Linked DNA regions of Homo sapiens: all the other regions are reported to be linked to region 2. Evidence: microRNA targets listed by miRTarBase, many of them from high-throughput screens and not tested one by one. Region 2 holds a microRNA gene; each other region holds the end of a gene's coding sequence.
Evidence for each region. The annotated mature microRNA hsa-miR-6760-5p reads CAGGGAGAAGGUGGAAGUGCAGA and lies in region 2 at 1,740-1,762, opposite strand. An mRNA with a match to its seed (bases 2 to 7 or 8) in the 3' UTR can be bound and repressed. Matches are read on the target gene's strand: a 7mer-m8 pairs with bases 2 to 8, a 7mer-A1 pairs with bases 2 to 7 and ends in A, and an 8mer does both.

Region 1: miRTarBase lists IDH3A as a target of hsa-miR-6760-5p. Seed matches in the 3' UTR shown: 7mer-m8 at 1,534-1,540.
Region 3: the mRNA of ZNF444 is a reported target of hsa-miR-6760-5p. Seed matches in the 3' UTR shown: 7mer-m8 at 3,416-3,422, 8mer at 3,374-3,381, 7mer-m8 at 3,320-3,326 and 7mer-m8 at 3,301-3,307.

What each region holds. Positions count from the first base shown.
Region 1 is chr15:78,168,658-78,172,657 of GRCh38, forward strand. IDH3A (isocitrate dehydrogenase (NAD(+)) 3 catalytic subunit alpha) reads left to right here. Exons shown (of 11, transcript NM_005530.3): 11 at 265-3,288. The coding sequence ends at 348. It overlaps ACSBG1 (acyl-CoA synthetase bubblegum family member 1), which reads right to left. Exons shown (of 14, transcript NM_015162.5): 14 at 1-2,872. The coding sequence ends at 2,787. Among named protein-coding and RNA genes, the nearest start is that of IDH3A, 21 kb to the left of the region's middle.
Region 2 is chr12:111,301,761-111,305,908 of GRCh38, reverse strand. It overlaps MIR6760 (microRNA 6760), which reads right to left and starts at 1,767; the gene lies at 1,700-1,767. CUX2 (cut like homeobox 2) reads right to left here. Exons shown (of 22, transcript NM_015267.4): 10 at 1,595-1,699. The region is part of intron 2 of LOC105369983 (a long non-coding RNA gene); the gene reads left to right.
Region 3 is chr19:56,159,845-56,163,844 of GRCh38, reverse strand. It overlaps ZNF444 (zinc finger protein 444), which reads right to left. Exons shown (of 5, transcript NM_018337.4): 5 at 2,952-4,000. The coding sequence ends at 3,644. Among named protein-coding and RNA genes, the nearest start is that of GALP, 14 kb to the left of the region's middle. RefSeq lists an enhancer at 1,301-1,400.

The DNA.
Region 1 (4,000 bases), not on the chromosome of region 2:
TTTTGGTAAAGCTCCCTGCCTCCCTTTGCATCAAGAGCACCTTATTCTTTGCAGAGTGCTGTTGTATACACTATGAGATTGGATCCCGATCCTCCTGGGCTGGGTAGATGGTGGTGGAGTGGTTCCTCACTTTGAAATGAGGAACTAAATGAAAGAGCAGCCGAGTAACTTGCCCAGGTGGCATCTCACTGAGGGCTTTAAAATCTCCTTGGTTTAGTTTAGTTTGCGGATACATCTTTTATTTTTGCTTTTTCCTTTTCTCAGAGCTTGACAAAAGATTTGGGAGGCAATGCAAAATGCTCAGACTTCACAGAGGAAATCTGTCGCCGAGTAAAAGATTTAGATTAACACTTCTACAACTGGCATTTACATCAGTCACTCTAAATGGACACCACATGAACCTCTGTTTAGAATACCTACGTATGTATGCATTGGTTTGCTTGTTTCTTGACAGTACATTTTTAGATCTGGCCTTTTCTTAACAAAATCTGTGCAAAAGATGCAGGTGGATGTCCCTAGGTCTGTTTTCAAAGAACTTTTTCCAAGTGCTTGTTTTATTTATTAAGTGTCTACCTGGTAAATGTTTTTTTTGTAAACTCTGAGTGGACTGTATCATTTGCTATTCTAAACCATTTTACACTTAAGTTAAAATAGTTTCTCTTCAGCTGTAAATAACAGGATACAGAATTAACAAGAGAAAATGTCTAACTTTTTAAGAAAAACCTTATTTTCTTCGGTTTTTGAAAAACATAATGGAAATAAAACAGGATATTGACATAATAGCACAAAATGACACTCTTCTAAAACTAAATGGGCACAAGAGAATTTTCCTGGGAAAGTTCACATCAAAAAGAGTGAATGTGGTATATTTCTAAATGATATGGAAAATAGAGACAGATTTGTCCTTTACAGAAATTACTGAGTGTGAATAAAAACTTCAGATCCAAGAAATATATAATGAGAGATATAATTTTTGTTAATAAGACAAAGGTAATATATTGGATACAAAGACACAAATGTATTGTGTGTTCAATTATTTTGTTGTCTTGAGATTTAATATTCTTTCCAAGAGCTTTTAATGAAGCAGAGAGCTAGTACTTCATTTTCACTGGATACATTTTCAGCATCATGAGTTGTCACAGCCTCTGAGCCCCTGATCTGAAGCCAGAAGGGCTGAGTGTATTGTAAACTTATTCTTGCATGTTGCTGTCTGGGAATGGACCACACTACAGCAGGTAGTTCTGGGGGCGATACTGCCGAAAGGCCCGAACACATGTATTTTGGCTGCAATTGAGGAACTTGGGATGCTATTAATTTTGTATTTCAGCAACTGCCCCTTCTCCTATCCCAAAGCACCAATTACTGCCCTCTGCCTCAGCAGTACCAGTATAAGATGACATTCCAAAGACTGGAGGCAACTCAGCCTGAGTTAATTCACAAAATTATGCCATGCTGGGGCTTGAGCTTGAGCTTGGGCTTAGGCTTGGGCTCAGCTTTTGACCCTCAGGCATCTCCTTTCCCTTCCTGTCTTCCTCTCCCTTCTCCTCTGCTGCAGCATGATTTTCTTAATCTTCAGACACTCACTATTTTCATGAACAGTTACCCTCTGTCCCCACAACCAAAGACAACTCATGGCCTCCTTTGGCCCTTGTGTAACATTGCAAACCTGTGGCTTTGCAAAATGTACCCAGGTCACAAGGGGATTTTTTTTTTTTTAGCAATGATATCCCTGTCTGGGTCACTTTTTAAGCTTGTAACCGCCCCCCCAGACTTATAATCTTAAATGTATTTTCCTTTGTTTAAGCTGCTGCTTCCTCTGTTTCATTGGATTGTGCCAGTTATCAGTGGCTCTTGGGTTCAAAGTAATAAAGAATTCCAAAACTGAGATGTTTGCTTTCTCTACCTGTTTCCTGTTCAGATGCCTTCGGTCATTTTGGCTCAGCTTGCTACTGAGAATGGCTGCTTCCCGTATTCAGAATGGAAGTGGGGTGGTCTGGTGGCGACAGGCTAACGTAGAGCTGGCTGCTTTTATGAGAATGCGCCACTTGACCCCATCCTGCACCTTTGTTTATTCCAGGGCACTAATGGTCACTCGCATGCCCGCTGTGCACAGTCCTGTGAGTTAAATGCCCACTACTCTCTGCACTGGTCCCACCTGCTCAATTGACAAAAAAAATCAGGTCCTTGTTGACAGTTCTGTTAAAAGGTTTAATATTCAAATTATACATTAAATAGAATCAAACAGGCAGCAGCAGTTTTATTAAGCATCAAGTCAGTTGGCATGTGGGTGGCGGAGTGCCTGGTAATGGAATAATAGGGTCGGCGATGCCCGCCAAGATTCCAGAGTAAGTCAGGTCGCTAGGTGAGTTGTGACTGATTGCTTTTCCTGCAGCGCACGTGAGCAGTATCAGCCATCTCTCTCCTACCCGCTCCACAGCCTACTGCTGGCTGTCCTGTATGTGAGCTAGCAGCTTTTTAATCTACCTGGAACTAAGGCCAAAAATTATCAGCCCTTTCGTTCTGGAAGGAGAGCTGATCTCATTTGTCACCTGAACAAAAAGCAATACTTAAACTGAATTAAAACTACCCACACGTGAAGCTTCTTGGAATTGTCAGCTATTGTTGGCGTAAGACCTGGTAAATGTAGAGCCAGTGCTGTGCCCTGACCTGGAGATCTAACAGACTTGGCAGAAATGCCTGTGCCCAGACTGAAGAGACCTGGGGCTCAGGAAGAGGCTCGGAACGCCTGCCCTCTATTCTATAGAAACTGCAGGCATAGGCCCTGATTACATTTTTTGCTCTTGGTAAAAGGAGTCAATGATACCTTTGTACTTCTCCAAAACTGTGAGCCGTTTCAGTTTCATCGTGGGACCTAAAAGGGAAATGAGAAGAAATGAGTGAGGCCCAGGCTCTGAGAACTCTGAGAATGTGTGTGGTAAAGACTCACACTCAGTCCTATATATAACTCAGGAATTAAGCCAGATAATCAGGACCGTCAGTAGCCAGCCTCCAAGACAGTGATCGCTCCTGGTATTCATATGGCTTGTGTGTAGTCTCCTGTGTTATACCACTGGTTGTGGCCAGTGGAGTATAGATGAAGGGTTGGTATGTCACCTCTGAGAATAGGTTATAAAAGATCAGTTTCTTTTATACACATAGGAAAGTAGTGTAAGCTACATCTGCCTTTTCCTTGACCTGTACCCAGTTTTGACCCTCAGTCCATTTTCTCTGAAATGGATTTATTTGTTCCATCTCTTGAATGAATAAATTGTTGAAGCAATTAAAAAATAGACTAGGTTTCTGTCTTGGGCTTTCTCTTGGACCATTCTTCCTGGGCAAGCCGGCTGCCATGTTGTGAGGATACACAGCCCATGAGAGGCCCACTGGCCACACACGGATGTTTCTGGCCAGCAGACAGCAAGGAGCTGAGGCCTGCCGACAGCCACGTAAGTGAGCGCGGAGGTGAGCCTCAGCTGCAAGTGACTGCACCCAGCTCACATTGACTGTAATCCCGTGAGACCCAAGCCAGAACCACTCAGCTAAGCTGTTCCTGGATTCTTGACCCATAGAAATGTGGATAATAAATGTTTACTGCTTTAGGCTGCTACATTTTTGGGGTCATTTGTTACACAGCAATGTATTAGATAGCTAGTACACATCATCTCTGCATTTTTGTGAACGTTTATACAACGTTGGACATTATGCTTTGATGGTTGTGATGGGGGTAGGGGAAGCCCAGGTTATGGGGAGCCTCTGCCATGGTCTTTATGAGAGGTCTTCCCCTAATTACTTTTCTTAACCTTGATTTATCCCCCAAAAGCAAGTTTGAAAGAGCTCTGATTTGAGGTCCTGGGTAGCTTAAAGTGCCTAACTCACTCTTGACTGTGTAACTGGAAACTTTCTGTGTTAAAGTCATTATATTAACTGCTTAGTGAAGACATCTTCTGTCTCTCTGACCTTGCGTTCAATATGCTGGCAGCAGACAGCCAGATAAGCTCAA
Region 2 (4,148 bases):
CAAATATGCTGACACACACACACAAATACACACGCATCAAAGAGAGACACTCACAAGGACACATCATCACACACAACAGACATGCGCGTGCTCAAAGAAGCCACATGCTCTCATGAGCAAAAACACCCCAGACACACCAAAGACACATTAACAATTATAACAGTAGCATCAAGTACTTAGTGAGCATATACAATGACCCAAGCACCATTTTAGGCACTTTACACATAATCCATTTTTTTTTTCAGAGACAGGATCTTGCTGTATTGCCCAGGCTGGACTCAAACTCCTGGGCTCAAGTGATCCTCCTGCCTCAGCCTCCTAAGAGGCTGGGACTACAGGCATGTGCCACCATGCCTGACTCATGTAATCCTTTTAATAACCCTATAAAGTAGATGTTAATTGTACAGATGAGGAAACTGAGGCACAGTCAGGTTAAGAATACAGTCAGTTGCCCAAAGGTCACAAGTAGAGACACACATACACAGTAACACATTCATAGAGACTCATTCCAATATTCAAACAGAAAGAGAGACATAGACACCTGGGCCTGTATATGTGGGTGTCAGGTGAAGTGAAAATTATGCTCGCAAGTTCAGGTTCATGGGTGGAGAGGGAAGTCACCCTGGAGCAGACCTGTTATTATGTAAGGAATCATGAATCTCACCCCTTGGTATGTAGAGATCTGGAAATAAGGCAGACCAATTCACATAATGAACCCAAGGCTCTCTGGGAGAGCCAGGATGGAGACTGCTAATATAGGACAGAAGGGTAGGTTGGGGTGGCCTTGATGAAAGTCTCTTGTCAAGAAATGACACTAGGACCCCAAAGAGGCACAAACCAGGAGGAAAGAGAAAGATGAATTGATTAATCAGGCCTAACACAAGAACCTCAGGGTTGATCACCGAAGACTGGCTCTTCATAGCATGTGGCTGGGGTGGGAAATCCCCCTAGAATCACCTGGCATGCTTTGGAAACCAATGGCTGAGTATGAATGTTAAATTTTATCTTGGTATGTGGCCCCACTGCAGTCCTGGTGATGACTGCCTGTTGATATGTTGGCTGGCTCACACTCCTAAAAGTACCCAGTTTTGGGACTGAAAACCAGCAGGGGCATCACCATCCCAAGCATGCACAAAGCTGCTATGACCGGTGTTCAACAGCGACACCTGGTGGCAGCCACCAAAACTGCATGCTGCTGTATTGCCTCAAACTCCCTCTCCCCCATGTCTTTGCTGGTGCATCTGGAAATCAGAATGATCTTTGGTCTGAGGAAGTTCCTGGCATTCTTGGATAATTGGGGATAAGGGAGGCCTCCAAAGGAAGATACTGGAACTCCTGGTAATAAAGGGTATATGGAAACGTGGGCTTGAAAAGTAAAGAACTGTAGCTGTATTTTTATCCTCAGCTGGTGTAGCAGGTCATAGTGATTATGCTCACCGTATGCACAGAGACCCACACACATTCACACTCCCAGTTTCAAATGGATGCACACAATCAACCACAAAGTGTCACCCACATGCTGAAACCTGCAAACTCAGCCATTCCCGATCTTTCCCTCTGCCCTCCCTGCTCACTTCCCCAACCCCATCCTTACCCCACTGGGCCCCTGGGGAGAGCAGCAAGCCAGGCGGATGGAGCTGTTGACAGAGGCCAGCTGTTCCCGGAGACTTTCCACCTCCCGCTGGGCAGCCTCAGCTCGCTGGGGAGAAGGGGACAGTGTGGGCGAGAGGTGAGCCCACTCTGCACTTCCACCTTCTCCCTGCACTGTTTCAGGCAGGGGTTGGGGAGGCAGACCTCCGAGGGCCTCAGGTCCTGCCTTCCTAGTCCCGGACCCTGTCCTGGAGCTATGAAGACCAGTCACAGAGCCCTGTCTGGGCTGGGGACAAGAAATAGCAGCCTCTGGGGTTACTCCTGAGCTGAGAGGACAGGAAGAAATGCCCCTCTGAGGAGGTTCTGGGTTCTCGTGGGGTGCCTGGGACCCCCAGAGGAGTCAGAACATTCCTGCTCTATGAAGGCAGGATGAGAGAGGCTCTCTGGGTGGGACTGGCAGGTTTTCACACATTTCTAGATACTTCTGTCTGCCACATTAACTTCAGGCCTGGCTAGTCTGAAGGCAAGAGCTGTTCCAACTCTCATGCCACCTGGTATGGAATGAGTCCCAGACACGGCATCTGCAAAGGTGCTTTCCCAGGCCACAGGTTATTGCAGCCCCTGGGCAAGTCACTTCCTCTCCCTGGGTCTCAGTTTCTTTTCTTTTCTTTTTTTTTTTTTTGAGATGGAGTCTCACTCTTGTCACCCAGGCTGGAGTGCAGTGGCACAATCGTGGCTCACTGCAAGCTGCCCCTCCTGGGTTCACGAGATTTTCCTGCCTCAGCCTCCCAAGTAGCTGGGATTACAAGTGCACACCACCACACCCAGCTATTTTTTGTATTTTTAGTAGAGGTGGGGTTTCACCATGTTGGCCAGGCTGGTCTTGAACTCCTGACCTCAGGTGATCCACCCGCTTCAGCCTCCCAAAGTGCTGGGATTACAGGAGTGAGCCATCGTGCCCAGCTCAGTTTCTCTTTTTGAAATGGGGAGCAATGAAAACATCTAACACAAAGAGGTTTTGAGTGGTTAAAATCAGAATGCAGCAGTTCACTAAACTGGGTCTATGGTCGATTTTTTTTTTTTTTTTTTTTTTTTTTCGAGACAGGGTCTCGCTCTGTCACCCAGGCTGGAGTGCAGTGGTGCAATCAGGGCTCACAGCAACCTCCAACTCCCGGGATCAATTGATCCTCCCATCTCAGCCTCCTGAGTAACTGGGATTACAGGTGTGCACTACCATGACGGGTTAATTTTTGTAGTTTTAATAGAGACGGGTTTTGCCATGTTGGCTAGGCTGGTCTTGAACTCCTGGGTTCAAGTAACCCACTTGCCTTGGCTTCCCAAAGTGCTGGGATTACAGGCATGAGCTACTGTGCCCAGCTGGTAGATTTCTTTTTCTTTTCTTTTTTTTTTTTTTTTTTTAAGACAGAGTCTTGCTTTGTTGCCCAGGCTGGAGTGCAGTGGCACAATCTTGGCTCACTGCAACCTCCACCTCCTGGGTTCAAGCAATTCTCCTGCCTCAGCCTCCTGAGTAGCTGGGATTACAGGTGTGTGATGCCAGGTCTGTCTACTTTTTGTATCTTTAGTAGAGACGGGGTTTTTCCATGTTGGCCAGGCTGGTCTCTAACTCCTGGGCTTAAGCAATCCACCCACCTCAGCCTCCCAAAAGTGCTGGGATTACAGGCATGAGCCACCACACCCAGCTGGTAGATCTTAATTCTTAAAAAATTTCTACCTGGAAGGAAGCATTCAAATGTTAATACATTTAATCTTGTGGCTTTGGAGAGAAATCTGGGCTCACATTCTGACTTTGCAACTTTCCGGTTATGCGATCTTAGGCAAGAGGCTTCATCTCCCCAGCCTCGGTTTCCCTATTAATAAAATGGGGATTATAAAGGCAACTATCTCATAGGGTTGTTCTGCAAATGAAGTGGTTTGGCCAAATGCAATTTGGTAGATATCTTTGCTTGGTGCCTGGCACATATAAATGCATCAATAATTGGTTAACTTTGTTAACATCATGAGGGTATATTACTTGAGCCATTACTTAGAGAATTAAAAGAGCTGTGGCTGTATTTTTGCCTTTGGCTGGTAATGCAGGTCATAGTGATTATGTTTAACTACATAATGACCTGGACAATCAGGATGCTATGCCCAATGTATGCATATTGAGACCCATACACATTCATGTTCACATTTGAATTTATTATTTATTTATACGTATCTTGCCTTGTTCCAGAAATGGTTCAAGTCAATTTTGTTTTGGGAAGAGTTTCCTGGTATGTGGGACTGTAAAGGAAATATTTTTATGTTTCTGTACAGTTAGGGAACCCTGAGCATATCTGATTGAAAGCTGAGATCTGGACTAAAGGACAAGCCTTGAAAATTCAACTCATGGCTGATTAGCTACTGAGAACCCCAGAGGTTTCCTTCCCTGGAGGTTTATGTGTTTAGACATCAAGGGTGGGTGAGACCCACATCATGGAGACAGCCCCTGAACAGTAAAGCTGGGTTTTAAAGCAATTAGCTGGGGCTGGGCATGGTGGCTCATGCCTATAATT
Region 3 (4,000 bases), not on the chromosome of region 2:
TCCACCTCCCAGGTTCAAGCCATCTTCCTGCCTCAGCCTCCCAAGTAGCTGGGATTACAGGTGCTCGCCACCACACCCGGCTAATTTTTGTATTTTTTTTTTAGTAGAGAAGGGGTTTCACCATGTTAACCAGGATGGTCTCGAGCTCCTGACCTCAAGTGATGCACCCACCTCGGCCTCCCAAAGTGCTGGGATTACAGTGCCCGGCCCAGGCAGGACTATTTTTAAGACAATTGAGCATGATTTTAGAAGGCTGCACAATTGACATTTTGCCTACTTCCACGTTTCGGTACTTTTCCTGAACAATGTTTCTTCGTTCCCCCTCTCCTAGTAACGGACATTTACGTTGCTCTGATTCTCTGCCATCCCAAGCAGCACCATGAGGAACAGCGCTATGCAGGACCTTCTGCGGATGCACCTGTGCCAGTCTGTCTGGCTGGGGCCTGCACACTCCGAGAAAGGACTGTGCACTCTGAGGAAGGACTGCGCAGTCTGAGGAAGGGCTGAGCACTCTTGTGGAAGTACCGCCCACTCTGAGGAAGGACCGTGCACTCTGAGGAAGGACTGCGCAGTCTGAGGAAAGGCTGCGCACTCTCGTGGAAGTACCGCCCACTCTGAGGAAGGACTGCTAGGTTGTCTCTCTGGAAAGTTTTCTGTTGCCCATGCGGAGAATATTCAAGTTTTGTTTCGGCCTTCCAGAATTTCCCTCCTGTTTGGGGGGGATCATCCTCCACTCCGTTATACAGCCTCGGAGGCAGACACCACTCGTCATCGGATGTCAAACCAAAGCTCCCCCAGGCTTAGCAGGTGTGGGTGCAGGAGGGTGCGGGAGTCAGATCTCCATCTATCTGGTCTCGCCTTGTTTCTAGTCCTTTGCAGGGGTGTTCTTCCAGCATCCTCCAATCCATCCGGGACTGTCCATCTTGAGTGACACAAAAGAGTGGGGCAGGACAGCCTGGCCGACTGTCCCTCCGAGACCAGACACGGGGTGTGTGTGTGTGTGTGTGTGTGTGTGTGTGTGTGTTGGAGGGGTCCCCAAAGGGGCACAGAAGTCCCGGGAGGCTTTTCAGAAGAGAAGAGATGGAGCCTGAATGGGCAAAAGCAGCAGCTGTGCTGTTAGGAGCTGGAGTGAATACTGTGAGCCCAGACACCTGGGATGAGATCCACAGATGTGGCCCGGTCCCTTACTCTTTTGGTGCCTCAGTTTCCCCATCTGTACCATGGGGATAACAACAGTGCATGCCTCATCGGTTGGTTATGATGATAAACAAACTGGATTTTAAAAAGGTCTGGCCCAGCAGACTCACTCTGTGTTTGCTGTTATCAGAACCCTGTCCTCAGACCCTGGCCTGACACCACCTCATACTCCCTCTCATGCCTCTTAGTCACTTCCTGAAAGTCTGCAGCAGACGACACGGCTTCTCCCAGCCCGTCTTCTTCCCCACACGGTGGGCATGGTAACGTCCTTAACATGCACCTGTCAGTGTGAAAGCAGCAGGCTGAGATCACACACCAAGTTCCCGTAAGTATTCTGCATTCATTACCTTATTTTTCTTTTGAGACGAAGTCTCGCTCTGTTGCCCAGGCTGGAGTAGGGCAGTGGTGCGATCTCAGCTCACTGCAACCTCTGCCTCCTGGGTTCAAGTGATCCTCCCACCTCAGCCTCCGGAGTAGCTGGGATTACAGGTGTCCACCATCATGCCTGGCTAATTTTTGTGTTTTCAGTAGAGTCGGGGTTTCAGCATGTTAGCCGAGCTGGTCTTGAACTCCTGAGCTCAAGTGATCCACCCACCCGAGCCTCCTAAAGTGTTGCGATTACAGGTATGAGCCACTGCACCCAGCCTTATTTAATTTTCAAAAACAGTCCCTTTTCAGGAGGGGCATTACTACCAGTCCTGTCTTAGGAGGTGGGTGCTGAGGCCTGTGGTCACTTGCCCTTCCTGGATAGCCTGGCACCTAAACCCTTCCCTGCACTGTTGAGTCTTGAAGGCAGACCTAGACTCCAGTGATGTGCACTGGACCGTCCAGGTGGCTGTTTCCAGATGCCCTCGCAGCCCGGCACAGGCTGTACCTGCCCCAGCCCTTGACACTGAGCCAGAAGCTGAAGCAGAGAGCAAGGCAGTGACCGTGGGGGGGCTTGGACGCAAGGTGGTACCGTGGCGGGCTCAGCCACAAGGCGGCAACCATGGAGGGTTTGACATAGAACCCCTCCCAGGCTCAGGCGCTGGGCACACAGGAACCAAAAGGACCAGGGTGAAGCCAGCCCCAAGACTGGGCGGCAGGGGAGTGGTCAGACCAGCGCTCTCATCCTACGCTTTCCAAAGCCCGGCAACTGCCCTTCATCCACCCGGCAGAGGCTACAGATTTCCTCTCTGGAGAGAAGGAACCGGGGTTGCTCGCTGAGCTGACAAGAGGTGGCATCCTGGAAAGATGCAGCTGGCCAAAGCCTGCCCTCCATACGGAGTCCCCCCCTCGGCCAATGGCTCCAGCTAAAGGTGAGAGAATTCCTTGCGTGGCAGAATGGGCCACCCAAGACCTACCAACACTGACACTCAGGACCCCAGTCAAACAGAGTGGCCTTAGCAAGGGAGGTGGGTGCCATTATCATCACTTGCGGATGTGGAACTCATGCCCAGAGGGTATGACCAACCTGTAGGTTCCCAGCCAGGAAGCTGAAGGGCTCAGATGCGAACCTGACTCAGTGTGGCACTCGGCAGGTCCCTTCCAGGAGCCTCATCCCTGCCTCCGTAGGATGGAGGTGGGGACAGCCCTCCTGAGGACACATTTCCTGCACTGCCTCCCACAGCTGTGCCCAGACTCCCAGAGCCTCTCTCATGCCAAGAGAGTCTGTGGTGGGAGCCAAGACAGCTGACCCCAGAAGCCCCGGGCACCCCAGACGCTCGGCCCTGGGAGGGTGGCTGTGCCGGACAGACTCCAGACAGAGCTCAGACTCCGGGTCTACACACAGTGACTTTATTACTCTATGGATGCTGGTGAACTGCCCTCCCCAACCAGCTTCACGGGGGCAGGCATCTCTGTCCATCCCATGCCTTTGGGTCACAGGGGGCAGCAAGACCAAGAAGACCACAGCCAGGCCCTGGGTTCAGCTTCAGAGCCATCACCCGCTGCCTCCCCCAACCCCCAATCTCCTGAGGGAGGAGAATTCCTAGGGACAAGACCCAGACCCCTTTCCTTCAGCCTCTGCTTCACCAAGGGGGCCTGGCCTGCGCCCGAGCTCCTCCTGGCCTGCCCCTCAGGGGTCCCAGGTCCTCACCTCTGCTCTTCAGGCAGGAAAAGGGCAGGGAGAGAGGAATGGAGGAGGGAGAGGGAGGCTGGGCCGCAGGAGAGAGAAGAGGGGGGAAGGAGGAGACATTAGGGAGAGGCCCCTTCACACAGAGAGAGAGGCCGAGAAATCAGGGAGAAGGGGGGGGCTGAGGTGAGACCTGAGAAGGAAAGTGAAATTTGGGGGAAAAGGAGTTGGAAAGGAATAGGAAGGCGTTGGGAAGTTCAGACAAGGGAGGCGCAGGTGGAGGAGGACGATGGGAGGGAAGGAGGAGAGGAAGAGGCCAAGTGGCGCTGGGAGAGAGCAGGTACCGCCCGGGGGCAGCACCAAGGGCGGGAGATGGCGCTGGCCGGGAGGCGGCTAACCCAAGGGCCAGGGCGGGAAGGGGCCTCCACCATCCGGGCCCGGAGCTACCGCCCCCTGCGCGCTGGCCGCTGCCCGGCCGTGGATGCGCTGGTGGCGCAGCACGTGCTCGCGGCGCCCGAAGCCCTTGCCACACTCCCAGCAGGCAAAGGGCCGCGCTCCCGAGTGCGTCTTGCGGTGGCGCACCAGGTGCTCGCGCCAGTAGAAGGTCTTGCCACACTCGCAGCACGCGTGGGGCTTCTCACGGGCGGGCAGAGGGCGCAGCGCGGGCCCGGGGCTGCCGGGGCTGCCGGGGTGCGTGTCGCGGTGGCGCCGCAGGTGCTCCTTGCGCCGAAAGGCCTTCCCGCACTCAGG